7 linked regions of the Homo sapiens genome follow. The protein of the gene in region 4 interacts with the protein of the main gene of each other region in a biochemical or structural test. Each region holds a gene or a part of one and is shown on either strand. Other genes may lie near its edges. The genes, in order: KCNT1, MMP24, KIRREL1, SIPA1L2, DENND5A, ADGRA2 and PDLIM2.

Evidence for each region.
Region 1: the proteins of SIPA1L2 (region 4) and KCNT1 interact in a test that uses a peptide from one of them, tested with the Homo sapiens proteins (one large-scale study listed by IntAct).
Region 2: the proteins of SIPA1L2 (region 4) and MMP24 interact in a test that uses a peptide from one of them, tested with the Homo sapiens proteins (one large-scale study listed by IntAct).
Region 3: the proteins of SIPA1L2 (region 4) and KIRREL1 interact in a test that uses a peptide from one of them, tested with the Homo sapiens proteins (one large-scale study listed by IntAct).
Region 5: the proteins of SIPA1L2 (region 4) and DENND5A interact in a test that uses a peptide from one of them, tested with the Homo sapiens proteins (one large-scale study listed by IntAct).
Region 6: the proteins of SIPA1L2 (region 4) and ADGRA2 interact in a test that uses a peptide from one of them, tested with the Homo sapiens proteins (one large-scale study listed by IntAct).
Region 7: the proteins of SIPA1L2 (region 4) and PDLIM2 interact in a test that uses a peptide from one of them, tested with the Homo sapiens proteins (one large-scale study listed by IntAct).

Annotation. Positions count from the first base shown.
Region 1 is NC_000009.12:135,781,699-135,785,787, forward strand, and holds part of KCNT1 (potassium channel subfamily T member 1), read left to right. Parts: intron 1-2,325; coding exon 2,326-2,427; intron 2,428-2,836; coding exon 2,837-2,920; intron 2,921-3,062; coding exon 3,063-3,191; intron 3,192-3,611; coding exon 3,612-3,632; intron 3,633-4,089. UniProt on the Homo sapiens protein: Sodium-activated K(+) channel. Acts as an important mediator of neuronal membrane excitability. Contributes to the delayed outward currents. Regulates neuronal bursting in sensory neurons. Contributes to synaptic development and plasticity.
Region 2 is NC_000020.11:35,225,035-35,229,660, forward strand, and holds the start of MMP24 (matrix metalloproteinase-24 preproprotein), read left to right. Parts: upstream 1-1,655; 5' UTR 1,656-1,704; coding exon 1,705-1,950; intron 1,951-4,626. UniProt on the Homo sapiens protein: Metalloprotease that mediates cleavage of N-cadherin (CDH2) and acts as a regulator of neuro-immune interactions and neural stem cell quiescence.
Region 3 is NC_000001.11:158,097,573-158,101,220, forward strand, and holds the end of KIRREL1 (kin of IRRE-like protein 1 isoform 1 precursor), read left to right. Parts: 3' UTR 1-2,690; downstream 2,691-3,648. UniProt on the Homo sapiens protein: Required for proper function of the glomerular filtration barrier. It is involved in the maintenance of a stable podocyte architecture with interdigitating foot processes connected by specialized cell-cell junctions, known as the slit diaphragm.
Region 4 is NC_000001.11:232,620,007-232,624,095, reverse strand, and holds part of SIPA1L2 (signal-induced proliferation-associated 1-like protein 2), read left to right. Parts: intron 1-4,089.
Region 5 is NC_000011.10:9,140,707-9,143,808, forward strand, and holds part of DENND5A (DENN domain-containing protein 5A), read right to left. Parts: intron 2,780-3,102; coding exon 2,697-2,779; intron 2,140-2,696; coding exon 2,016-2,139; intron 1,403-2,015; coding exon 1,234-1,402; intron 1-1,233.
Region 6 is NC_000008.11:37,841,420-37,845,522, forward strand, and holds the end of ADGRA2 (adhesion G protein-coupled receptor A2 precursor), read left to right. Parts: coding exon 1-936; 3' UTR 937-3,070; downstream 3,071-4,103. Other genes in the region: BRF2 (transcription factor IIIB 50 kDa subunit), read right to left, coding at 3,071-3,794.
Region 7 is NC_000008.11:22,583,045-22,587,133, forward strand, and holds part of PDLIM2 (PDZ and LIM domain protein 2), read left to right. Parts: intron 1-1,776; coding exon 1,777-1,846; intron 1,847-1,972; coding exon 1,973-2,118; intron 2,119-2,276; coding exon 2,277-2,355; intron 2,356-4,089. UniProt on the Homo sapiens protein: Probable adapter protein located at the actin cytoskeleton that promotes cell attachment. Necessary for the migratory capacity of epithelial cells. Overexpression enhances cell adhesion to collagen and fibronectin and suppresses anchorage independent growth.

The sequences.
Region 1 (4,089 bases), on a different chromosome or scaffold from region 4:
ATCCAGGCCCAGTGGAAGGATAAAGACAGGATTCCAGGCACGACTCCGGAAGGAAAAAGGGAGGAGGTGGAGATGGCATACACGACCGTCAGTGAGATGCTCTGCCAGGTGCAGCGGCTCATGCCTGTAATCCCAGCACTTTTAGAGGCTGAAGCAGGAAGATCGCTTGAGGCCAGAAGTTCGAGACCAGCCCAGGCAACATAGCAAGTCCCCATCTATACAAAAAATTTAATGGCTGGGGGCGGTGGCTCATGCCTGTAATCCCAGCACTTTGGGAGGCTAAGGCGGACGGATCACCTGAGGTCAGGAGTTCGAGACCAGGCTGGCCAACATGGAGAAACCTCTCTACTAAAGACACAAAAATTAGCCGGGCGTGGTGGCTGTAACCCCAGCTACTTGGGAGGCTAGGGCAGGAGAATTGTTTGAACCCGGGATGCAGAGGTTGCAGTGAGCCGAGATTGTGCCACTGCACTCCAGGCTGGGCGACAGAGCGAGACCCTGTCTCAAAAAAAACCAAGCAAAAAAATGAAACTATTATTAAGGATGCTGCTGGTGGGGTGACATGCATCTCCCCTTGAGGGCTGGCTCCAGAAGGCTCTCAGAGCCCCGGTGTGTGAGAGGAGTCTCTCCCCTGAGGCCCACCTCCCCTGCCGTCCACCTCCCCTGGTCTCCAGCACCCAGGACTCCTCCACCACTTCATTGCTTTCACATGGTCAGCCTGTGTGATCTCTCCTCCTCACCAGGAGCCTTCCTTCAGGCTGGCTCTGCCCATCCTGGGGCTGCACGGTGCCTGTCCTGCTCCCTCTGACCGGGGGTCTCGTGCTCAGGAAGGGCTCATCCGCTCCTGTGTGCTCCTGTCTTCACTGTCACTTGTGAATGGCACCCGCTCAGCCCCTGCTGAAGCCCTCCTGTCCAGAAAGCAGGAGGAAATCTCTGGAAGGTCCTGAAACGTCCAGCTTTTTCTTTCCTTCCACGTCTCTCTCTGGCCCTGTCGTGGTTCTTGTTTCCTGTTTAGCGTTGTTCTGAGTAAAGGAAAATTAAAATTGCAAGTTGTTCTGGAATTTCACGTTCGTCTCCGCGAAGTACGGCTGGAATTCTGGATGCAAATCACCACGATTGCAAACTCACACGCCCATCGCAGCTCATCGCACCTGGTTCTTGCCCCAAGAGCGGAAACGCCGCACGAAACTAATTCCACTGTTTCTCACGCCCCAGCCTTCCCACCGGCCACTGATGAGTAAGGGCGAACCCGGAGGAAAAGGGGCTTCTGCCTGCTTGTCCTGTCGCTGTCGTGTCTTTTACCTGTGAATCGAGTTCTGGTTCCGGGGGGAAGTGTGGCCTCCGTGGGCGCACACGCCTGCCTGTGCACACTTGCTTGGAGGCCGAGCTCCAGGGTTGGGGCCCTCCGCTGAAGAATGACCCGAGAGTTGGCCACGGCCGGGTCCGGAGCCCGTGGATGTACCGCCTCACGTGACAGAAGGGCCTCTGCAGATGGGATTAAGTCACGGGCCTCGAGATGGGAGATCCTCCTGGAGCATCCGGCAGGTTCACGCCGTCAGGGTCCTTCTAGGGAGAGGCCAGAGGTCCCCATCCGGTGGGAAGAAGCTGCACGGCCAGCTCAGAAGAGGGAAGAGGGAGCCACAAGCCAAGGCAGGTGGCCTCCAGGAGCTGGAAAAGGCAAGAGAAGGAGGCCCCCAGGCCTCCAGAGGGAGCGGGGCCCTGCCCAGGCCTGGATCCAGCCTGAGACACCTCAAACTCCCGACTCCAGAAACGGGAGAGAGGAGACAGGTGTCGTTTTAGCTGCTAAGTTTGCGGTCATTTGTTACGGGAGCCCCAGGAAACTCAGTGGGTCCATTGCAAGCCTGGAGCACAGGGACGGGGAGGCCAAGGACAGCAGGGAGCCCGATGCTTGCTCCTCCTCAGCCCAGACTCCACACGCCCTCCGGCACCACTTACAAAACACCGGGGGAGGAGAGGATTATCAGGAGGATTTGGAATTTCGGGATGGCAAGAGCAGGGCGCTTGACCAAGCGCAGTGCCCATGGCAGCCGCCGGGAGTCCACCTTCTCATCAGAGCCCCACATCACTCCTCCCGGGCTCTGGCCCTGAGTGTGTCTGGGAAGATAGAGCTGGTTCAGGCCTGCCGGTGTATGCACACATGCAGACACACACTGTGTACACGTGGACACACACACCATGCACAAATGTGCACACAGGTATCATGCACACATGTACGGTGCACACACAGTGCCCTCGACCCCGTGGCTGCCGTGCCACTGGAGGGACCTCGGCACCAGCCCATCTGAGGCCCCTCCTTTCCCACAGAGGGAGCGAGAGAATGGCTCCAACCTGGCCTTCATGTTCCGCCTGCCGTTCGCCGCCGGCCGCGTCTTCAGCATCAGCATGTTGGACACACTGCTCTACCAGGTCAGCGGGGAAGCGGCAGCAGGAGGGTGGCGCCTGGGTGGGACCCCCGTCATGCCCTCAGCTCTTCAGCCTGGTCCCTGTTCTGAATGATAGGACTCCCTCTGAATGACCTTCCCTGGATTCCAAGGAGACCTCTGGGCCCTGTCCTTGCCCCAGGGATTTCTGGGCCCTTTTTGACCTATGGGTGCCTGGCAAGGGAGTTTTCTTAGAAAAGGCCTCCCAGAACTCTGCCTGTGGGTCATGTGGTGCTTGGGGACCTGGTGGTTCTGTGTGTGTGTATGCATGAGGGGTGGCGAGCCCGTGGCCGGTGGGGTATGGACCTGTGTCCCACGCCCGTGCCCGCGTGCCTCACTGTGGCTCCCTCCCTCCCTCCCTCCCTCCCTCCCTCCCTCCCTCCCTCCCTGGCCAGTCCTTCGTGAAGGACTACATGATCACCATCACCCGGCTGCTGCTGGGCCTGGACACCACGCCGGGCTCGGGGTACCTCTGTGCCGTAAGTGCCCCTGGCTGCGCTGGGCTGGGGGCGTGCTGGGCTGTCCAAGTGGGTGGATGGGCACCTGCCCCTGATTCACGGTGGCCAGGAGGCTCTGGGTGCTGCCACCTGCCCCAGCCAACTCAGGGTTCCCACCCTGCAGATGAAAATCACCGAGGGCGACCTGTGGATCCGCACGTACGGCCGCCTCTTCCAGAAGCTCTGCTCCTCCAGCGCCGAGATCCCCATTGGCATCTACCGGACAGAGAGCCACGTCTTCTCCACCTCGGAGGTTCTGGGGCAGCCTGGGGGCTGGGACTGTGGCAGCCCCTGTCCTGTGTGACCCACAGCATCCCCACCTTCCGGGGGCTGGGACTGTGGCAGCCCCTGTCCTGTGTGACCCACAGCATCCCCACCTTCAGTGTCAGGGACCTGGGCTAGATCAGCTTTGCTATTGCTGGCAGCTCCTTCCGTCTGGTCCGTGTGCCCACGTGTAGCGCTTCCAGCTGGAGCAGCCATGACCCCTACCGGGGGCAGAGAGGCTCAGGGGAGTCTTCAGGAAGAATACGGGCAGCCCCTGTGCTGCAGTCCACACAGCAGCAGGCACCGTGCCCACCAGCCCTAAGCATGTTCCGTGCAGACCCCAGGCTGAGGCGGCGTGGGGGGCAGGGGTGCGCCCACAGGTCCCAGACTGCGCCTGTTTCCTTTGCAGCCCCACGACCTCAGAGCCCAGGTAAGCAACCCCTCCGTGCCCACGCAGCTTCTGCGGAGCACCAGAACATCGCAGCTTCACATGGAGAAGCCTGCCAGGCCCCACCCACCCACCCACCCACAGGGCCCTGGGAAAGCCGAGGCAGGAGCGGGTCCCACGGATGTGTCGGCCCCAGCACGGCTCAGAGAAGGCTGTTGACACTCACTCCCTCCTGCACTGGTGGTGGGGAAGCTGAGGCCTGGGGGGAGTAGCCTGTGAGTTTGGACACCAGGTGCACCCCCGCCCCCTCCCAGGCCCCACCAAGGCAGGCAGCCCCCATGCCCATCTGGCCTGACCAGCCCCCAGCCTCCCAGGCCTTTCTGAAGGTGCCACCCAGGTGGGATGCCTACCTCTTCCCAGCACCCCACGACCCACAGGCTCTGGCACCCCACGTTCCCCAGGTTCGGGGCCTCCAAAGGGTGTGTTTGCAAGAGGGATC
Region 2 (4,626 bases), on a different chromosome or scaffold from region 4:
TCTTCCACTTCTTTATCCTAAATTAGGGGTAATAATAGCATCTATTTCATAGGGTTTATCTATGAAGATTAAATGAGATATCGTGGAGGAAAGTGCTTAGCCCAGTAACTAGTATGTATTAGGCACTCAATAAATGTTAATTATTATTGTTATCCTTATTTCCTTATACTTAGACTATTACACTAGTCTCCTAACCAATCTCTCTGCCTCCTCTGGTCATTATTCTCTCCACTGGGAGGGGAACTAACATGGAATATCTATTAAGTGTCAAGCACCTCATGCTGAAAGCAATCTTATACAGTAATAGTAGCATCATTTTATAAAAATGGAACAGAGCCAAGATATGAACATAGGTCTGACGCTAAAGCCTGTGCCCTTTTTTCATCTCCAAATTACCACGTAATCATAAAATACTATTTTCACACATCATCCTGCTTAAACACACACATACACACACACACACCACACACACACAACCTTTAATGACCACCCTCCCCCATTTTCCTTCAGAACACAACCCAAATTTATTATCCTAGCATTCACTGTCTTGTACAACTTCCCTCACTTCCCAACACTTTCCTATAGGAACCCTGTGCTCCAGAGAAACTTATCTGCCGCCTCAGGCACATCCTGTACACCCTCAACTTCCTCCCTGAAATGCCCTCTCCTCTCCCCTCCCCTGGTTTAAATCCAGCCTTTCCTTCAGGTCCTAGCTAGAGTCCCACCCTCCTCCATTACACTTTTTCCTAACTTCCCCAGCCCCTCATCAGGTCTCCCTCGACCCCTGGAGCAGCCGCCTGTATCCTTGTTGACACGTGGTGTTTGCCATTCTGTTTTTCTTTGCGTTTATGTTTTCTCATCAAGCTGTAAACCTCTGCACTCCAGGAAATCGGCCTTCTCTTTTTTGTTTTTGTTTTTGGGTGTTTTTTTTTTTCCTTTCAGCATCCCAAGTAGCCCAGAGCCCTACAAATAGAAAGCGCTTGATAAATATGGGTTGTTTTGGATGAAAGATGATCTTCCCAGCTGGATGAGCTCTTTCCCTCTAGGGGTGAGGGACTGAGCTTCACCTCAACTTCACCTAATGTCTCACAGGAATGCCCCCTCTTAAACGCTCCTCAGGTCTTCTCTACCCCTTTCCCCCACCACCCCGGCCCAGGAGAGCCACTCAGAGCTCCCTCTCCGGAGTCACCCTCTCAGACCCAGGGCTATTTCTTTAGCTTGCTCTCGAACCCCGCCTTTACCCCAGAGCCGCTCCTCAGTCTCCTCCCCCAGGCTGCCTCTCAGGCCCCCTCTCCTCCAATGCCACTCCCTAGGACCCTCTCCCCAGGGTTCCGGACCCCCAACCCCGGATATGTTCCCCCAGGGCCATCCAGTTGTTCTACCTCCAGGATTACTGATTTAGCCTCTTCCCCCTCCTGCTCAGGGCTACCCCCAGACCCCGACCTCCAGTTCCACCCCTTCGGACCCTGCCTCTAGAACTGTTCTTTTAGCCTCTGCAACCCCCTCCCCAGCGCCGCTCCGCGGCCCCTGCCCCAGGGCTGGTCGGGGAGCCACTGCCCTCGCAGGTCCCGCCCGGGTGCTGCCCCCGCGCCCCCGGCCGCCCCCCACCGGGGCGGGGCGCGCGGAGGCGGGGGCGCGCTGGCGGCCGAGGCGGCGGCGGCGGCGGCGAAGGCAGGCGGGCCGGGCGCGGGCCCCGCCGCCGGGATGCCGAGGAGCCGGGGCGGCCGCGCCGCGCCGGGGCCGCCGCCGCCGCCGCCGCCGCCGGGCCAGGCCCCGCGCTGGAGCCGCTGGCGGGTCCCTGGGCGGCTGCTGCTGCTGCTGCTGCCCGCGCTCTGCTGCCTCCCGGGCGCCGCGCGGGCGGCGGCGGCGGCGGCGGGGGCAGGGAACCGGGCAGCGGTGGCGGTGGCGGTGGCGCGGGCGGACGAGGCGGAGGCGCCCTTCGCCGGGCAGGTGGGGCTGGCGCGCGGGGCCGGGGCGCGGGCTCGGGGCATCCGGGCAGGGCGGGGGGCGGCACCGGGGACGGGCCTGGGCCGGGCCGCACCTACTGCCGAGGTCGCGGAGGCGGCGCGCCGGGGGTCCGCGCCTTGGGTCCGGGCTGGCGCGGCCCAGGGCGGGGGCTGGGGAGGGCCTCGCCGAGGGCCGCCGAGGCCGGGAGCTGCTTCAGCACCGCGGACAGGGGCAGCGGGCGGGGGCCGAGCACGAGGGTCGGGTTTGTTGTGTTGGCAGTGGGGTGTGTGGCCTGCATGACTATGTGCGAGGGAAACCGTACAACGCCTCGGAGTAAATAGTAAGCGCAGCCAGTCTGTTGTGGGTTGGGAGAAGAAACCGAGGATGTTCAAGCTGGAGAAGGGGGAGGGGGAGGGCGGAGGAAGGACTCGATCACTGTCTTCGTAGCTGAAGGGCTGTCAGGTGGAGGTAGGATAGACTTGTTCTAGCTTGGCCCCACAGGGCAGAACTAGGGCCAGCGGGAGTGGGGGTTGCAAGAAGACAAATTTGGGCTCGATATAGGAAGAAGTTTGTAACAATTGGAGCTGCTCAACCAGCTTAGGAGGCGGCGAGCTGCTCATCACTGGCATGTGCAAGTAAAAGCTCTCGGAGGGGATTGGATGGAGGCATGCATAATGCTTGCATGGATGCATACATCATCATCACAATAATGCCAGCTAGCATTTACTGAACACTCACTATGTGCCAGGCCTGGTGCTATGTTTTATACGAATTATCCAATTCAATCCTCATAACTACTCTATGAAATAGCTGCAATTATTATCCCCATTTTACAGATGGGGATACAGACTCAAAGAGCTTAAGTAACTTGCCCAAGGTCACACAGCTAGTGAGTGATGGAATTGGAATTCTAACCTAGGCAGGCTGACTCTAGTCTCCCCTTATTTACCCATGACCTTATCCTATATCTCATGGGGGGTGCAGTTGGACTAATTTCTCTAGTATCTTCCAACCTAGAGGACTGCAATATTCTAATAAATGATGTTGGGACAATGGTGTTTTGCTGAGGAAAATCAGAGTGATAGCCTCGCCACCCTAAGAGATGGAGTATATTTGTTGAAGCAGGCAGTCTGTTTGTTTAGAAGAATCTGCCTCAAGAGATATTCTTAATTGGGCATGGAGCTCAGGGGGTCATACGTGCACTGAAATTGCGTACAAATTTGTAAGTGCAAATGTGTGTATTTCTAGGCGAGGACCCCTAGATTTCTTCAGCCTCTCAAAGGGTTACAGGTTCCACAAAACAACAAAAAAGATATGGTGTGTAAAAGAACCTTTAGTGCCAGTTGGCAGTTGTCCTCCAAAGATTTTATAATTGCTGGTTGACTTGTTGTGGAAACTTTGCTTAGCCTCTTTGTGTTTTCACATGTGTTTTATCACATGTTAAAGTAATGCATTTCCTAAGTTTATACCCTAGAAGAAAGATTGCTTTAGACTGCCTGAGTGCACAGGATGAGGTGGAAAGACCCTGGCCTGGGATTAAGGAGGCCTGGGCTCTGATCTGACCTTGGCCCCCATTGGTTTGTGTGACCTTGAGCCATTTCCTTGCCCTCTCTAGGCTTGAATTTCACCATGTCTAACATAAAGAGATAGAGCTAGACAATCTCAACTCTGAAACTTTTTTATTCCTACAATATTTCAAGCATTAAGAGGAAGCTAGTCCTTACCTGTATCAGTTTTATAGGCTTTGATTATTCCACCTCTTAGCCTTTGTCTTTTTAAACTTAAGTTTCCCCCTATGACACGAGACCCCTAGAATAGCCACACTCATTCTCTGGGTCATTTTAGTTGTCCTTTTCTAGATACCTTTTGGCCCTAATTTTCAATAGATGTCAACTTGACCATTGTCTCCAGATACAGGACCCTACGGTTTTGCATAAAGGAAGGTTGGTTTCTTCTTTGCTCTCCTGGTCCCATCCTGCTTCCCCCTTCCCTCTGTCAGCTTTCCTGATCTCAACACACTAGGCCACTGCCTTTAGGGAACAATCTATAATAGCTCCCGGAGCCTTTTCCTGGGTCAAAACTGATAGCCTGGAACACAACACCCTGTATGTGGATTATTTTTATCGGAGTGCATTACCTTACATTTCTCCACCTTGACGTTTGTCTGCCATCTTGCATTGCACTCAGTAACTTCCTTCAAGCATTCGCTCACTCTCTCTCTCCCTTCCTCCACCTCTTCCTCCTTCCTTCTCTTTTGGCATAGCATTTCCCTGTCTGAAAGGGCTTAATATGATCTGAAGTCTTGAAATTTTCACTTTGCTATATTTCTTCTGGATCACTTATAAAAAATTTAAGTGAGACAGGTCCCAGCATGGTCTCTTGGGGCCCCCTGCACTCTTAATCCCCTTTCATTCACGGAAGTGACCATTTATATCTATCTATTGTTTTCTAAGTGACAAAAACATCATCCTTAATTTGACAATGACTCCATTTTAAATGTCTAATACATTGTCCAAAACTTCCTGAAAGATAGACAAATTATATCCACTGCTTCTCTCAATAATTTGTGCCTAATTATCCTTTCACTGAACACTAGGGGATCACTTGATTGACACCTTATAGAAATATTGTTGCTTTTAAGCCGGCAGATAATATTGCTTACTCCTCTTTCTGTCTTTT
Region 3 (3,648 bases), about 75 Mb from region 4:
ACCCTGGAAGGCACAGGGAAGCATCAGCAACCAAGGTAGTCTCTGCCCTCTGTAACTTACGTGTTGGTGCATCAGAATCTGAATTGGAACCTACCTGATGGGCCCAGTGGAATAGCTTTTCTGGGGAGTGGAAGGCGTCCTTGATCACAGAGCTTTGCTGTCGAATCCTGGAGTCCTGCAACATGGTGATGCCTCAGTAGTTGGTGATCCTGATCACCTTTGGTGGCTTGTTTTAGTGGAAAGAGCAAGGGACTAAAGGTCAGGAGACCCAGGACCCAGTCCTGAAGCTGCAAAGGTTAGATCTCGGCCTAACTTTCTGTTCATTGCCCCCAATTTGTCTGGCCTGTAAAATGAAGGGGGAGGGTTGCATAAACCTAAAACTATTCTGGTTTTGTTATACCCATAGGGTTGGGGGTAGGGATGGGACTGCCCATTGCTGGCAAGGAACTGGGAACAGTAGCAAGCATGGTGAGGGCTGGAGAGCTGGCTGGGGGGGTTCTCTCCTGTTCAAAGAAGCTTTCACCATGGGCTTCATTATCTTGTCAGAAGTGAATTAGTTTCCACCAGGGACCCCTTTATCCCAAACAGCAACACAAAATACACCCTAAACCTCAGAGTAAAATTGATGTGGGGCTATCCTTTGGCTATCGGGTCATCTGTGCTGCTCCCCACTCATTTCTGATGGGTTTGCAAAGGTGCCTTTTGCCAGGGCAGGACATAGTATGCACATAGGGATATTGTTATGTGCCTAGGTTTCAGGCACTCCTTCTGTAGGGGAAAATGGGAGGAGCCTTCCTCCACCCTGATCCTTAGGAACATTCCTCTGGCCCAGGGACAGCTTGTTCTTCTCACCAAACAGGTGAAGCCTGCAGTCCAAGGTGCCTGGAGCCAGAGGTCGGGGAGTAAGCACAGCTGCCCCTGCCTGAGAAGGAGCAGCTTGCAAGGGGAGCCGGTGGAGGGAAAGGGGTACAACAGCTTTGGAATACATTCTGGATCTTGAGGAGGATCTTGTGATTTTGGCTGAGCCACGGTCACTTCCCTCGTGAAGGACCCGCCCTATATCCTAAATTCTGGATCCCTCAAAGTCCAGCCACAGAGTTTGCATGAAGCAAAAAGCCTAGTAAGTGAGAAAGGAAAGGGGCCAGGGATGGGAGCAGTGCTGTGCTGTTATCACTGTCTTGCTTGGAATGAAAACATCTGAGCACCCTGTCTTCAAGCGGTACGCTCTCCCCTTATTCCAGCAGGGCTACTTTCCTCTTCACTCTGATGAGGGGAGCTTTATCTGCTTTCAAAATGGAGCACGTCGCACTGGAGTTTCGTGCCCTCTCGTTAACCTGTCAGGAGCCACAGGGCTCCATAAAACGGAATCAGTGTCTCAATATACATGACCTATGTTCATAGCAATGTTCAGCCATTTGGGTTTGAAGAAAACCACATTAAAGCCAAGACCCGTTTGGAGCGAACTGCCTTGTTCTTTGCTGTGTGGAAGGTTCTGTCCCTACTGCTGAACTCCAGTTCCTCCCCAAGCACCCTGGCCTCAGAAATCCTGGCTTCCCCAAGTTAGTGCTGTCTGACCTGAGCCAGGCCACTGCTTGGTGCCTCTACAGGCCACTGTGCATGTTGAGAATTGCCCAAAAGGATTAGTGAAGCTCCTGACCCTGGCGAGGCCATAATGAACACTGAAGTGCACAGGCCAAGGGATGTAATTGAAAGGCATTTATTTTTGTGAAGATGCTGTAAAATTAGCATTTAAATATCCCATTCCCTTCTCTTGGCCTCCTCCTATCCCCCTATGGTATTTCTCCTCCTCTCCTCAAGGCCAGGCTTTTTGTGAAAGGCATTGGCTCATCTTTGTCAGCGTGGTCCTGACGTTCACCTCTGGGCTGCTGGAGAGGACTGAGAGATGTGTGGTTTGGTAGGAAGGGGGTGTGTGTGGGGGTTAGTGGGGAATCCCATTTTTTTGCATCACTGTGAGGTAGCTTCAGGCCCTGTCCCTGGAGAAATAATTGCTGCGCAGAAGTCACAGGCCATACTGGGCAGTTCTGGTACAAACCTGCCCTTATTAATAATAACAATAATAATAATAACTCCATTTGCATAGAACTGTCACTCATTCCTGCCAGTCTGCTGTCCCTACCCTGGTTTTTTGCTGGCCCCAACCACTGGCCTTGTTGAGTATCGATGGGCCCTGAGCTCTTCTGTTTGCTTTTGGAGCTCTTCAGATGCTGTCCCCCCTGAGAATACCCTAACTCTGGGGAAAGAGCAGCCAAAATCCCAATACAGTAAAACTCCACACAATCTTGTTAGCAACAGTGACCCAGAAAATTTTGAGAAGTCCAATTTCACCAGAAGAGGCCCAGGGCTCCCTGTGGTCACATTTTCTACCCAGCCATTCTTGGCATTGCAACCTCCATTTCTAGCTCCTGTTGAATTTTCTCCACCCAGACCCCAAAAATAAATGGATCCATGATGATAATTAAGAGAAGAGAAAAAAAGATATTATTTTTGTTAGGACAAACCATTGTAGGTTTTTAGCAATGTGTATCTGTGTGTCCCTCACACCTTTTCCTATTCTACTTTTTTTTCCTTTTTTTAAAAATATTATGTACTATATTTTTAGTCTCAAACACACTATATATTATATATATTTAATTTTTTTATATATATAAATATAAATGTTTTAAAAAGTACCATGTTTTGTGTTATTTAATGCATTAACGGCTAGTTACTTAAAAGCCTGCCTGGCTTTGGGTGTTAGTCCTGGTTTGGGGAAAAAACAGGTTTGGATTGAAATTGCAGAAGCAATGTTTGTGCCACCTCCAGGCCGTGGGGCAAAAACGTATTCTCTAGTTTGCCACTTGTGCAGAACCCTGAGGCCAATTATGGCAGTTCAGGGACAAACAGCTGGAGGCTTCTGCTATTGGAAAACAGCATCCAAATGTTCTGTGCCAAATCGCATTATGGGAATGGGAAAAGGGGAGACTTTTGAATCTGAGATCTAGATCCCAAAGGAATTGGGACAAGTGTGTAAGAATGGCTGGTTTTGTTTATTTAAAACGCTGTGGTTTGGGTAAAAAGCAAAGTTACAAGGTCTCCAACCTTTTGAACTTGTAGTGAAGCAGAATGAAAAAACAGATGGTGCAGCAGTGCACACACACAGAGGCCATCCTGCTGAGAAATCCTAAATTCTCTGAGTTGAGTTCCCAAGGGTTTCAGTTTGCTCATTTCTCAGGAGTGTTTGCAGATACCTGAAATAGTTTTCAGATAATGTTTTGTTTTATTTTGTTTTGGACTTTTATTTTGTTTTGTTGTAGAGGCTATGTTGCCCAGGCTGGTCTTGAACTCCTGAGTTCAAGTAATCCACCCACGTCGGCCTCTGGAGTCGCTGGGATTACAGGTGTGATCCACTGTGCTTGGCCCAGATAATGTTTTTTAAAGCTATAAATCATTAGAGAAATAGGGTTTATTGTTTTCTTCATCCAGTTAACAACGAAGCAAACTCAAGACAGTTTACCGTAGCCTTTTTTGTACACAAGGGACACCCAACATAGTCAGAGAGGAAGACAGGATGTAAGAGCTGAAAAAATACTTTCGAAATAATGCAACCCATTTCCAAGAGGGCTAGAAGTCACGGCACAGGAGCTGCAG
Region 4 (4,089 bases):
ATATGTATAATATATCTGTATGTATAAACATATACTTTACTGTGCTAAGATATTATGGACATAAAACAAATGTACATTTTAAGAAGATTAATATTAAAAATAAATAGATGTAGAAGTATTTTCTCTGCATCTCAAGGGCATTTGTATCTTTGAAATGTGTGGCCCCTGTGTAGAGACCACTGTTGTACTATCACTGGTTAGAGTTTATAGCAGTTGAGAAATGGAATTTCTAGGGAGCCTGTAGGGTCTTGTGAGGCAAGCGGAAGACAAACTCCACTCTTGATGGGCCTTATATTTACTGTGTATTTATTCTTTTTCCCGAAGACATTTCTGACTTTGGCCTGTTTTCTTCCAGAATTGCTTGTGGGTCTTGGTTTGGGGTTTCATTTATTGAGGGGTAGGAGGTTAATGTAATGGCGATGCTATTCTCCTTAGAAAGTTTCTAATTGAACTCAGCTGTTTTTTTGTTTTGTTTTGTTTTGTTTTTTGAGACAGAGTCTCGCACTGTCACCCAGGCTGGAGTGCAGTGGTGCGATCTTGGCTCACTGCAAGCTCTGCCTCCTGGGTTGCTGCCATTCTCCTGCCTCAGCCTCCCAAGAAGCTGGGACTACAGGTGCCTGCCACCATGCCTAGCTAATTTTTTTTTGTATTTTTAGTAGAGACGGAGTTTCACCATGTTAGCCAGGATGGTCTCGATCTCCTGACCTCGTGATCTGCCCGCCTCGGCCTCCCAGAGTGCTGGGATTACAGGCGTGAGCCACTGTGCCTGTTCTGAACTCAGCTGTTTAAGAAGCATCATACTATCACACTCAGACGAAAGCATTCCCAGGATCAGGGTATGTTAAAAGTTCAGATTGACAGCCTAGCTCTGTCTGTATGTGATTGGCCAGAACTGTAGCACACAGCCACCCGTAGTGCAAGGAATGCCTGGCTTCCCAGCCGTTAGTGGGTTGGGAATGAGTGAGGAGAGACAGCAGGGAGCCCTGCTCTTGTATCTCCAGTAACTTCCAGCTAAACGAGCACCATCCACCCCCACCCATCCTCCTGTTCGATTTTAATAATGGAACATAAGCAGCAAACAGGCAGGGACATTTCTGGTTTACTGCTGTATTCCCTGCACTTAGGTGGTTTTTGCCACATAATAGGCTCACAGTAAACAAATATTTGTTAAAGAAATGATTGGGAGTTGTGGGTTGAACGTAAAAGAACTTCCTTTATCTTGGCTTTTGTTGAACTAAATACTGTTGAGCAAGTTCTAATCATTATTTCTATTGTACATGATCTATCTTGAACAACAGTTTATACCTCATTTATGCCTTTCCTGGGTCGTTTGAAATGACCTGTGATTGAACTCTGATATGGAACTGGTAAAAATGTGGAAGTTTCTGAAGAGGGACTGTGTTCCATCTGTTACATCAAGAACTTTATAGCCCCATTCAGAGGGGTGTGGTTCCTGGGAGCCTGGGCACCCTTAGGTGGCCGCCTTTCATGAGAGAGTATGATTCACACCTTTCCCAGGTTTCAAAGTCTCATCTGTGCTGATGCCTGCATAGCCCTATTTGAATCCCATGAGGCTGCAGTTGACTTAAAAGCCCTGGCTGGGGCTTAATCAAGCTTACTGAACAGAAAGGATTTCTGAATTGTGTAGTACTGTCTGTAGTCCTTTAGCTCTCAGTCCATTAGCAGGGTTCATTTCTACAGGAAATCATGATGTTTAAAAACCCCATCAGTATTGTATAGTGCATCTTTTGTTGACTCAGTACATGAGGATATTATTTATGCCTTAAATGTGGTAGGTGCTCAGTAGCCATAGTCTTAATTTTATATGGTAAAAGTCTTTTATCTTTAATATCTTAACGTAGTGCTAGTTCTTATAATATGACATTAGAGGGATGTCATTCTAACTCCTATTTGTTTACATTTGTGTATAAGGTATGCTGTGATAAGTGCTGTAAGCAAGGCATACATGATAGTAGAAGCATCCAATTTATCAACCAATTTTATTTGAGGATCGTTGTAACTCATTTGTTTGGAATAATAGGTCATTTTTCCCATTTAAAATGTTTTAATTTGGGCATAGTGGCTCATGCCTGTAATCCCAGTGCTTTGGGAGGCTGAGGCAAGGATTGCTTGAGCCCAGGAGTTTGAGACTAGCCTGGACTGCAAAGCAAGGCCCCATCTCTACAGAAAATTTTAAAATGAGCCGAGTGTGGTGGTGCACACCTGTCGACCTAGCCACTGGGGAGGCTGAGGAGGGCCGATCCCTTGAGCCCAGGCGTTCGAGGTTACGGTGGGCTGATCGTGCCAGTGGACCCCAACCTGTGTGACAGAGTGAGACCCTGTCACAAAAAAAAAAAAATGTTTTAAATGACAAGAATAAGTGAAGGAGACTAATGTTGATTTATGAAGAGAATAAAGAATTGGGGAGAGATATTCTTAAAGGCGAGTGTAAAATGTTACCGTGCTTGAACTTTCATTTGTGTTCTCTCATGTATACTTAACGAGAACCTTATAAGGCTGGTGGGATTTTTTTCCCTTTTACAGATACAAAAACTAAGGTTTAATGAAAGTGTGGTTTTCTGAATCTGAGTCCTTATGTTTTAAACCCATTTCTCTTGGTTCCAGCTATAGTGTTCTTTATTCTACAGCTCACTTGTAAGGTATGGTAGGTTTCAATAAATCATGATGAAAGGAAAGAATGAAAAGACAGAAAGGAAGAAGGGAGAGAGGGAGGGAACTAAAGAAGGTGTGTGCATATAAGAATGGCGGAATTACCGACTCACTATCACTGAAAGGGGGAAGTGGAGGCTGAGGGTTGGGCTAATGAGCTCATTGTTCTGGTCTAAAAACTGCCCTGTTCTCTCAGCCAGTGAATTGTCTGTTATTAACTAGAAATTTTGTAATTTGTGGTGAGGTAGCAGTTTTACTGATTGAATCAGGTTATATATTCTTTGTTGGGAAGTGAGTGGGTCCTTCTGTGATCATGCAGAGAACATTTTTTTTAGCCCGAGTCTTTGCCAAGATTAAAAGAAATATAAGAGGAAAACAATTTTTGTTTTGCATTTATATTTTGCTAGATTTGCATAATCTTTGTTTAAGCCAGTTGAATGTGAATCCCTAAATACATTTCAGGCATTTAAATATTTAAAAGGATTCATCCACAGTACTTTACTCACCCAAAGAATAAGTGCTTACAACAAAGAAAATAACACCCTTGCAGATGTAGCCTATGTAGACTTTGTTCACCTTGTCATTGAATTATACAACATTAATAGAGAAGCTAGAATTTGAACATTCACTGAAATGCTTAGCTGGCTCTGTTCCAAAATATTGTTTCCCTGGTAGAGAAAGCAGGACAATTTGTTTAAAACTGGCAGTTTGCCAGTCAGAATAGCTCTGACGCAATCATTGCAGTAACTACTTTGCTCTGACTGCTAATTTTAGGGCAGTTAAATCTGGGTGATGTCTGATGGCTGCTGTCGCTGTGCGTCTGGTTATGTGAAGCTTTCTAAATTCATCCTCTTAGCTTGGCACCGTAACTTAGTTCTTTCTGAGATAAGCTGTGGAGCAGAGGGGATGTTGAGTCGGCACAGGATATGTGCATGGAATGAGGAACAAGGCCCTAGGAGAGTTTCAAGAGACACTGCTTTCATCTTACTACGCTCTTTGTTATTCCAATAGCAAAGGCTTAGCACATCTGTACTTCCCTTGCTGTAGCACCCTGGGAGGTGTTGAGGAAGGTGGAGAGAAGTGTACATCGAGACACCTACCTTCATGGAACAGGGTTCTGGCAATATGCACTTGCTTTCCTTGTCATCCCTGCAAGCATTAGTGTGTTTAAAAGTGAACTTTTATCTTCTTCCTTTTTGGAACAGGTAAAACTACGGAGAAAAATGGTAATTTAAAAAAATCTGGCCGGGCGTGGTGGCTCATGCCCATAATCCCAGCACTTTGGGAGGCTGAGGCGGGCGGATCATGAGTTCAGGAGTTCAAGACCAGCCTGACCAACATGGTGAAACCCCGTCTCTACTAAAAATACAAAAATTAGCCAGGCTTGGCAGCGCGTGCCTGTAATCCCAGCTACTCAGG
Region 5 (3,102 bases), on a different chromosome or scaffold from region 4:
AACTCCTCCCTGAAGTCTTCTCTGATCTTTCTCCTCTACCTTTTCAGCATATTGTATGAATGTACACTTCATTTTTGGACCCTCAAAACCTTCTTCCATGCTCTGTATTTAATTAGGACAAGTAAGCTTCTAAATGTTGGCCAGGCATGGTGGCTCACGCCTGTAATTTCAGCACTTTGGGAGGCCAAGGAAGGCAGATCACCTGAGGTCAGGAGTTCAAGACCAGCCTGACCAACATGGAGAAACCCCGTCTCTACTAACAATACAAAACTAGCCAGGCGTGATGGCGCATGCCTGTAATCCCAGCTACTCGGGAGGCTGAGGCAGGAGACTCACTTGAACCCAGGAGGCGGAGGTTGTGGTGAGCCGAGATCACACCATTGCACTCCAGCCTGGGCAACAAGAGCGAAACTCCATCTCAAAATAAATAAATAAATAAATAAATAAATGGTAAGGGGCCACGTTTTATTCAGCTGTCTTCCTACCAACTTCCATAAGGCCATTTAAATGTCTAATGAAGGAATAACTAGATATACTCTGCTTCAAACTTCCCCAGTGGTGTGATTTTGATCTTTCCTTTCAAAATGGGGCCCCTCTGCCCCGAGTTACATACACGTTGTCATCCCTACCCCGACAGATCACCACACACATAAGTCACGTGTTGCTTAATGACAGGGATACAGTCTGAGAAATGTGTCATTAGACAGTTTCGTCACCATGCGAACTTTATAGGGTTCTCATACAAACCTAGATGGTAGAGCCTACTATATGTCTAGCCTGTTGCTCCTAAGCTACAAATCGGTACAGCCCTGTCACCAGCCCCCAGGCCTGCTCTTCTACACTTCTCCTGGAGCTTCCTGCCACAGCAGCCTGAAGAATAAAAATGAAGGAATACTGTGCTGAATACCGTAGGCAACTAAAACACAATGGTAAGTATTTGGGTACCTAAACATCTCAACCTATAAAAGGTACAGTAAAAACAGAGTATAATCTTATAGGACCATCATCCCATAAACAGTCCGTCACTGACAAATGTTGTTACGCAGCACATTTTATGCAGTGTGTGACCATACACGATACACAGAGGAAATTCAGGGCTTCTAGGAAACCTTCTAAGGCCTCATCTCCCTAAGGGCACCTGATGAGCCATTCCTCACCCCTGCACTGCACCAGGCCTCCAACACCACCACCAAGGCTAACCGCTGTGCACTCTGGGCCCTGGGTCTGCAGTACCTGGCTCCCAAGCACACCAGCATCTGAAACTTGCCATCCTTGCCGATGTTCCGGGGAGTATTGTTGATTGCAGTGACAAATCGGCAGAAGTTCCGGGCTCTTGTATGCCAGTTTTCCTCAGGGACTACTTCATTCTTCTCTAATGTCTCATAATAGGTTTGTGCTTTTTCTGTGAAGAGTAGAAAAGCTTGCCAGTGAAAAGGCTCTCAACACCAACCCTGACGGTCCTACAGGCCACTTGCCATGGGCCTCTCCAAGTCCACACAGGTAACTTAATGAGAATAGCACAAGTGTTCTGATGTCACTGGTCATGTTTCAAAATGATCCTTAGCTTCCCTATCCTTATTTTTTAAATTTATGTATGTGGCCCTTGATATAAAGATGTTCTTTTCCCTAGTCTGAAGACACAAAAAATTCTGAGGATGGTTTCTTGCATGAAAATTCTCCATATGGGTGCAACACAGGGCTTGGGGCTCCAATACGCTCAACTGGACTTTGGGATCTATAAGGGGAAAGTGTGAGGACTCAGGACTAAGTCCATACTAAATAACAGATGTCTAGAAGAATCTTTTCTGTGCAATTCTCAAGAGGTAAGCATTTACCAAGGACGGGGAGGAGAGCTCTTGTCACTCCCTTCAAGAAAAACCAGAGCAAACAAATGAGATCTGAGAGTCACCTAATTTGGGTTCTGCCTCTCAGAGTGGTCAGCACCCATGCTATGCTGGTGAGTCCCCTTATATCTCTACATGCTTCTCCCACCCTCATACTCCAGCTCAACTCACCCAGGAAATCCCAAATGAAGACATTTTTGAAGAGCCGGGGCGATTTAAATCCATGCTGGAAAGCCTGTTCCAAGGCCGAGACAAGGCCACACTCTCCACAGAGCAACAGCGTCAGACTGCCTCGCTACGTAAGGAAACAGGGGAGGGTGCCAGGCTTGTCTCAGCCGAGCTGCCCTCCCACCATTGCATCCCTAAACCCACAGCCCAGAGTTGGGAGGGCTGCAAAAGACAGGCTAGGACTTTGTCTGTTTCCCTAACACCTGGCACAGTGCCTGGCTCAGAGCAGCTCCCAGTGAAGAGCTGCTGAATAAATGGATGAAAGAAGAGATGATGGATCTGGGTCACACACAAGGAGATTCTCCACTGGAGGACAAAGCCAGTGTGGCCACTATTCAAGGAGACCCAGGCAAATCTAGAAGAGGACAGGAATAGGCACTGTTCACTAGGGGCCCAGGGACTCTATTGGGTCATCAGTATGGAGGGAAAACAGGGTAACCTGAGGCAAAGGCCCCCAGAGGAAGGAGTCTGCTCCATCTCCAACTAGCTGAGGCACACACTCTACAAGACTCTAGGGTGTCCACAGCACATGGGCCTGGAAGAGCATAACAAGATAATCGGAAAAACAAAATTATTCTCTCTTATTCAATGTAAGGCCCTGGATTGGAGGGCAGGAAGGCTCACCTCTTTCTCAGGCTTATGGAAGTGCTTCACAATGCCATTGACTGCCTCCCCGATGGACTCCTGGATCTGCCCAGTGTTCAGCTCTAATAAAAATCAAGCAGACATCCCTAACCAATCTCTGAGGCTAACAGTGCTTAGCTGCCTGAGCAGGAGACTGAGGACACGGGGAGGGCCCATAGGAGAGGCAGGGCAGCTGGACCCTAGGAAGCAGAGGCGCTTGCCCACCCAGCTTTGCTGATTTAGCTCTTCCGCAAATCTTGGGGGAAAAACACAAAAGCTAACACCTTAGAGTTCTATCTCTAAGAAATGCTGGTAAAGTTTAGTTTCCATTTTACCTTGGAATTGTGGGTAACCAAAAGAGAGCCAAGCCTTGGCTGTGAAGCCCAGGAATCAGGCAGGGGGAGTC
Region 6 (4,103 bases), on a different chromosome or scaffold from region 4:
CTGTACTTGGCCATGTGGGCCTGCGGGGCTCTGGCAGTGTCCCAGCGCTGGCTGCCCCGGGTGGTGTGCAGCTGCTTGTACGGGGTGGCAGCCTCCGCCCTGGGCCTCTTCGTCTTCACTCACCACTGTGCCAGGCGGAGGGACGTGAGAGCCTCGTGGCGCGCCTGCTGCCCCCCTGCCTCTCCCGCGGCCCCCCATGCCCCGCCCCGGGCCCTGCCCGCCGCCGCAGAGGACGGTTCCCCGGTGTTCGGGGAGGGCCCCCCCTCCCTCAAGTCCTCCCCAAGCGGCAGCAGCGGCCATCCGCTGGCTCTGGGCCCCTGCAAGCTCACCAACCTGCAGCTGGCCCAGAGTCAGGTGTGCGAGGCGGGGGCGGCGGCCGGCGGGGAAGGAGAGCCGGAGCCGGCGGGCACCCGGGGAAACCTCGCCCACCGCCACCCCAACAACGTGCACCACGGGCGTCGGGCGCACAAGAGCCGGGCCAAGGGACACCGCGCGGGGGAGGCCTGCGGCAAGAACCGGCTCAAGGCCCTGCGCGGGGGCGCGGCGGGGGCGCTGGAGCTGCTGTCCAGCGAGAGCGGCAGTCTGCACAACAGCCCCACCGACAGCTACCTGGGCAGCAGCCGCAACAGCCCGGGCGCCGGCCTGCAGCTGGAAGGCGAGCCCATGCTCACGCCGTCCGAGGGCAGCGACACCAGCGCCGCGCCGCTTTCTGAGGCGGGCCGGGCAGGCCAGCGCCGCAGCGCCAGCCGCGACAGTCTCAAGGGCGGCGGCGCGCTGGAGAAGGAGAGCCATCGCCGCTCGTACCCGCTCAACGCCGCCAGCCTAAACGGCGCCCCCAAGGGGGGCAAGTACGACGACGTCACCCTGATGGGCGCGGAGGTAGCCAGCGGCGGCTGCATGAAGACCGGACTCTGGAAGAGCGAAACTACCGTCTAAGGTGGGGCGGGCGACGCGGTAGACGGGCTGGCCACGCGGCTCGTTCCCCCGCTCCTCGGGGCCCTCCAAGGTGTCTCCGTAGTCAGCAGGTTGGAGGCAGAGGAGCCGATGGCTGGAGGAAGCCCACAGGCGGATGTTCCCCACTTGCCTAGAGGGCATCCCTCTGGGGTAGCGACAGACAATCCCAGAAACACGCATAATACATTTCCGTCCAGCCCGGGGCAGTCTGACTGTCGGTGCCCTCCCAGGAACGGGGAAGGCCTCCGTCTGTGTGAAAGGGCACAGCACATCCCAGGTGCACCCTCCCCAAGTACTCCCACCCCGCCTACTGTCCATGCGGCCTCACTGGGGGCCATCAGCCTCACCAGCAAAGCAGAGATGAGAGCGTGGGAACTGTGTTCTTTCCTCCCTGCCCTCTACTGATTTCAGCCCAGCCCCTGCCTAGATCCTAGGTCCCTTTTCCTCCCGAGTTTGGCTGGCACGAGAGCTAGCCCAGCACATGAAGCAGGTGATGTTAAGTCACAAGGTGCTGCTTTTCAGATCCACTATGCAAGAGGGGAGGGTGGGGCCACGTGAAAGGCAGCTCTAGACATCAACCAGTCCTGGGGGAGGGGAGTGGGAACCGGGCACAACTAGGAACAATGCCACCATTCCCACAGGAGTGGTACTTAAACCAGACAGCAGGGTTCAGAGGTGGCACACCGGGACAAAGCTGAGGCCCTGCACCTCAACAGCTGACTGCCAGGTGCCTGTGGGTGAACTGAGGGGAGTAGAGGGAGAGGGCAGGTGGAACTGGGGCAGAATCTAGTCATGCCCTAAAGCTAGTCCTGTAAACAATGGTGCCCCAGAAAGCTGCAGGTGGTGTTTGGAGAAGCAGTTACTTTTCAGTTACAAGACCCATCTCCCTAGTCTCAGCCTTACAACACCACGGGACTAAGGAAGAGCACTTCCTTGCCTCCGTAAGGCCAGAGGAAGAACCATCCCAATCATTTGATCTCCAGCTCCACAGTAGAGAGAAACCTACAAAATGTCAAACCAGCTTCCCGACTCCCAGGAGCTCAAGCCAAGCCCAGAGGCAGTGGCTGGGGTCCCTGCAGGTCATGAGGGGCCTATGCCTTTACTCCTTTTAAACACCAGCACCCGTCTTTTCCCCAACCTAAAACCAACCACCAGCATTTCACTACAGGACCAAATGGAAACCGAGGGAACCCTGGGTCTTGGGAAGAACAACAGGAAACCAAGGTCTGACCTAGGGTTCCCTCCCAGTCTTCACATCACTCTGGCCTCATCACCAAGGTGACAGAGGACACAGGGGAGGGGGAAAACCCACACACACTCCTTGGAATGGGTCCTGTTATTTATGCTTGCTGCACAGACATATTAGAAGAAAAAAAAAAGCTTTGTATTATTCTTCCACATATGCTGGCTGCTGTTTACACACCCTGCCAATGCCTTAGCACTGGAGAGCTTTTTGCAATATGCTGGGGAAAGGGGAGGGAGGGAATGAAAGTGCCAAAGAAAACATGTTTTTAAGAACTCGGGTTTTATACAATAGAATGTTTTCTAGCAGATGCCTCTTGTTTTAATATATTAAAATTTTGCAAAGCCCTTTGAGCTACTGCCTTAGTCTACCCACTGTCCTTTTGTTATGAGGTAGAGGATCTCATGACACCATACACACAAACCCATCATTGCCTGTGAATGCACGTAGGGCCAGAATTCCCCAGTTCCCGCTCCTCTGAGGGTTGATACTGCTGGGAATGCCAACCACTCCACAAGCAGAGGGAAGCCCCCTCAGGCCTGCAGGAGGAGCCGCAGCAGTGTGTCCAATTCAAACCAGCAGCAAAGAGCCTGACATTTTCCCATCCATCTATGAGGAAAGCCATCTCACAGAACATGGACATAGGCAACTTGCTCTCCCACACCAAGGGATGGGAATCTCTCCTACCTATAGTCATCCCTGCACTCCTGACTTTACTCCAGGACCCAGGGTCCAACTAATGGCAGAGCCCCTCTTGGTTCCTTCAAACAAGAAAAGCAATACCTACGGACTGGTGTACACTTCCATCCTTGGTTATAACAGGAATGTTATCAAGCTGTCAGAACAGGATGAAGTGCTCCCAGTGGATATCCATCAGGGAGGGTTAGGGACACTCGTGGCAGCCTGTCTAGCAGCCTGGGCTCTCTGAAAGTCCCTAACTTCCTGAGGGGTACGCAAATACTGTTCTATTTCACTATCAGAAATGTTCTCATCTCCAGTGACAGTGGAGACAGGGGGTACAGGGCAGATCCGCTTCGGGGACTTCAACATGCAGGGTGGCAAGAGAAGGGCAGGACTGGCCGGCCGCTTCCCCTGGGGTAAACCTAAGGAATTATTTCCCACCTCCCCTTCTCCTTGCCCCTGTCCCCACCCCGGTGGCTCCTTCTCTCGGGTCTCCACTTCTGCTGTCCCATCCCGAAAGGCAGAGCGGACCAGTGACTGGCGGTGCTGGAGAAGGTCACCGATGTGCTTCACCACAGACCGTTTGTCAAGTCTCAGAACTCGTAACCAGGCCAGCTGCTCAGCCATCCGCAGCAGCACAGCCAGCAGCTCCTGCAGGCGGGAGGACGCCGGGTAGGGCAGGTCCACATTTGCCAATTTACAAAATCGGGCAAGGGAACATGAAAGCCGATCTGCAGGCTGCAGCGACTGCCAAGCCAGGAAAGTCGCAGCAGTGATGACGGGCAAGGGATGCCTCCCGGTCACCAGCCACGTCTCATTTGCCAGCTCCACCAACTGCATTGTTCGAGACAGCATCTTCTCTTTGTCTTCCACGTATTTGGCTGGCACAGAAGGTGAAGCTTGGAACAGTTTGAAGCTGAAATAACCAAAATGAGGGTTGGATCTTAATGATATAGGGGCTGCTCTCCCACAGTGAGGAAAGACAGCCCACTCAAGATGGGGAAGCTATTCTGCCCTCAGGAATACTCAAGCTCACTGGGCAGCAAGTTAATAAAGGTAGTGAGAGAAAACAGGGCGTCTTCCGCTTGTTAGGGGAAGGTGGAGGGATGGAGGAGAGCACGAACATTTATTGGGCGCCTCCCAATCACCATTATTCTGAGTGCTTTACAACGTTCTCATTTAATCTACGTGCACGTGCACCATCTTATGTGCATGTATAGTTAAA
Region 7 (4,089 bases), on a different chromosome or scaffold from region 4:
TCCCAGGAAGCGGAGGGTCCTGTTGCCCTACATCTCTAGAGGCAGCCTCACGGCCAGGAATGTGTGGCAAGATGGGACGAGGCAGGCTGTCCCTCAGCCCAGACTTCAGTTACCTCCCATTCAGGGCTCCAGCTGGGTTCCACTTTGGAAGAGGGTACCCAGGGAGCTGGGAGGGCGTGCCCCTCTCGCTGGTGGGGAGCTGGGCCTACTTGTCTGGAAGGAGGCAGGCGGGTCTCGCCCTTTGTTTAACTGGGGAGACCCCTGAGAAAGGGATCAGGAGTGACGCGCTCAAAGGCACCCTGGCCTCCAGTGGGCAGGGTGCACAGCTGGCCCAGTCACCGTGGGCTCTAGAACTTGAGGCAGCTCACTTTCCCTCTCTGGGTTTCAGTTTCTCCATGGGTTAAAATATAAAGGATTATTTCTATGAAATCAGTAATCAGGCCGGGCGCAGTGGCTCACACCTGTAATTTCAGCATTTTGGGAGGCCGAGTCGGGCGGATCACCTGAGGTCAGGAGTTCAAGACCAGCCTGGCCAATACGGCGAAACCCCGTCTCTACTGAAAATACAAAAATTAGCCGGGCATGCTAGTGGGCACCTGTAGTCCCAGCTACCTGGGGGGCTGAGGCAGGGAGAATTGCTTGAACCCAGGAGGTGGAGGTTGCAGTGAGCCGAGATTGCACCACTGCGCTCCAGCCTGGGTGACAGAGCGAGACTCCATCTCAAAAAACAAAAAAATCAGTAATCTTCCCCCAAATCAATCTACAAACCCGAGGCTGAGTGATATCAGTGACAAAGTCCAGGCAAAATAGAAAAAAAAAAAAAAAAAAAAAAAAAAAAAAGGGCAGGATAATGTGAGGACTCTCTAATAAAACTGAATGTTTGAACTTTCTGATGAAGTTATGTACGTTCTACTTTTTAGAACCAAACTATCCTTTCTTTTTTTGGGGTGGGTTTTGCTGTTGTTACTGTCGTTTGAGATGGAGTCTCACTCTGTCGCCCAGCCTGGAGTGCAGTGGTACAATTTTGGCTCACTGTAACCTCTGCCTCCCTGGGTCAAGCAATTCTCCTGCCTCAGCCTCCCAAGTAGCTGGTGTTACAGGCATGCGTCACTATGGCTTGGCTAAATTTTTTTTTTTTTTTTTTTAATTAGAGATGGGGTTTCACCTTGTTGATGACCAGGCTGGTCTGGAACTCCTAACTTCAAGAGATTCACCCTCCTTGGCCTCCCAAAGTGCTGGGATTACAGGCGTGAGCCACCGTGCCCGGCCTTGGTGTTTTTTTGAGACAGAATCTCGCTGTGTTGCCCAGGCTGGAAGGCAGTGGCACAATCACGGCTCACTACAACCTCCATCTCCTGGGCTCAAGCGATCCTCCCACCTCAACCTCCCAAGTAGCTGGGACTACCGGCATGCACCACCATGTGCAGCTACTTAAAAAAAAATTTTAGTAGTCATGAGGTCTTCCTATGTTGCCCAGGCTGGTCTTGAACTCTTGGGCTCAAGTGATCCTCCTGCCTTGGCTTCCCAAAGCGTTGGGATGATAGGCGTGGGTCAATGTGCCTGGCCAACTGTCCTTTCTTTTAAGGAACCATGGTTGTCATTGATGATAGTTGTTTGTCTTGAGTTTGACAAAGTTAAAAGTTGACAACCGGATGTCCAAATTTTCTGTAGCTTTTACTGGTGTTGAGAACTAGATCTGGGAACAGTTTTGGCCTCTTTTGGGGGTTGCAGGGTGCAGGGCCCCTGTGACATTCCCTCCCTCTGTTGCCTTCTCAGGTCTCAGGCTACGTCTCCAGGGCAGACCAATGGGGACAGCTCCTTGGAAGTGCTGGCGACTCGCTTCCAGGTAAGCTGGTGCCCTCCCCTGACAGCCTCAGCACCCTGATCACTGGTGCATGAAAGTGAGGCCCGAGGGCAGGGCGGCCTTGGCGGGGCAGCCCTGCCTTTCCTGACACAGTCACTCTCTCCACAGGGCTCCGTGAGGACATACACTGAGAGTCAGTCCTCCTTAAGGTCCTCCTACTCCAGCCCAACCTCCCTCAGCCCGAGGGCCGGCAGCCCCTTCTCACCACCACCCTCTAGCAGCTCCCTCACTGGAGAGGCAGCCATCAGCCGCAGGTGAGTGTGCCTGTGAGTGGGTACCCTGGTCGCCTGCGCTGCCAGCTCCAGGCTGGCTCCTCTGAGTCTCAGGAGCTCTGCTTGGGAGCCCGGGGCAGCATCCTCCCTGGGCAGGCTGGGGGTGGCCCTGGCACACACTGTCCCTTTCCCACTTTCAGCTTCCAGAGTCTGGCATGTTCCCCGGGCCTCCCCGCTGCTGACCGCCTGTCCTACTCAGGCCGCCCTGGAAGCCGACAGGTGAGGCTCCCTGGGGGAGGACAGGCTGGAGGAACAGAAGCACCTCCCGTTCCTGTGGGTTGCCAGTGCCCCGGGACTGCAGGCGGCCAGGCCCACCTGGGCAGCCATGGCCTCCTTCTCCTGGCCACAGGCATGCTCTGCTCCTGAGCCAGGGAGGCCATGCTTCTGGTCGTGGGCCACCTGTGCTGTGCCCAAGACCTGCCCAGCAGTGCCCAGTAGCCCGTCCATCTCCTGCACCCCTCCCCTCATCCCCCTCCCCTCCCATCCTGCTGACTTCCTCCCTGCCCAGTATGTTTCTCTTGGGCTGTGGCTGAAATAGTTTCGCTGCTGTTGTTGGGATGATTCCCTTTCGTCTCTGGCTGCATCTCTCGAACACATTCCTCCCCATTCCAAGACCCGGGCCTGCCTGACTCCCACCCACACCCTCCCTTCCTCCTCTGACTCAGCCCAGAGATGCCCCAGTGGGACTGCGGTTCTGCCTTGAGCGCTCTTGGCTTATTCTGTCTCCTCCTCCCCCTACCCCCGCCAGCTCCCCTGGACTCTCTTTCAGCCAGGTCCCAGTGGCCCCTGGTGACAGCCTAACCCCCTTCCTGGGTGGTATTTCTCCTCTTCAACGGTGGGGGATGGTGAGGGAGTGAGGCAGCCAACAGCCCTGGGCCGCAGCTGCTGGGGACGGCGTGGGGGGCACGTCCAGCCTTTGGGGTGATGGGGATATGGCCCAGCTGCTGAGCCCTACCTTTGGGTTGATTCTGCATTCCAGAAAGCAGAGCCTTTGGGGGTGGCCAGGGAGGGCACTAGAACCCAGAGGCTCTGGAGGAGGAAGGAGCAGGATCTTTCTGGGGGCCTTCCGAACAGCGGCTGCCTAGTGACCCGCTGCGTGCCCACCCAGAGGCCAGCCTGGCACTGTGGCCATAGAGATATATTCCATGGGTCCCCTTGTTAAGGAATTGAAGATGCAGTTGTAGAGATAAGGCAAACTTGCAAAACAATTTTGGAGCAATTAGGCACTAAGCAGTGTGGTATTAATTACAAAAGCAGGAGGCGTTCTGGGAGGGGAGGGGAAGGAAGGCTGTGTGAGGAGTATTGCTGGACGTTAGAGGTGGTGGTGAGAGGGTTTAGGGAAGGATGAGCAGGAGGCCCGACATGCTGGGAGATGGAGAAACACTGGTCCGGGCGACGGCTGATGTATTGGGGCTGGGGGATTTTTTAGGGGGAACCTTTGTTCTGAGATGAGCCAGGAATGAGCTTGTTTCAAGAGGGCTGGTCAGTGTCAGTCCTGGCTCTGTTCCGCGACACCTCTGGTGGGCTGTGGTCTCAGCAGGACCCACGTGCTCAAGGGCAAGCCTTCCCGAGCTTCCCCATCGTGTTGCCCCCAGTCCAGGAAAATGAAGGGTGTGGGAGGTACAGAGGCATGGCTCCCAAACCAGCGGCAACACCTGAGAACTTGTTGGAAATGCAACTTCCCAGGCTCCAGCCTACACCCGCTGAATTGGGCATGGGGCTTGTGGGTCACGAGCCCAGAGCTGGGTGTGGGGAGACTCACTTGGGTCGGTCCCACCTCTGCCTGACGACTTGGACCAGCCCCCCTTCCTCTCCCTGGGCCTCAGGTCAGACTAGACGCTCTGAGTTCCCTTCTCTGACCTTGATGACTCTGCTCATTCCTTCGGCAAATATTTGTCGAGCAGCTGCTTCATGTCAGACACTCATCTGGGCTCTGGGGATGCAATCGTGGAA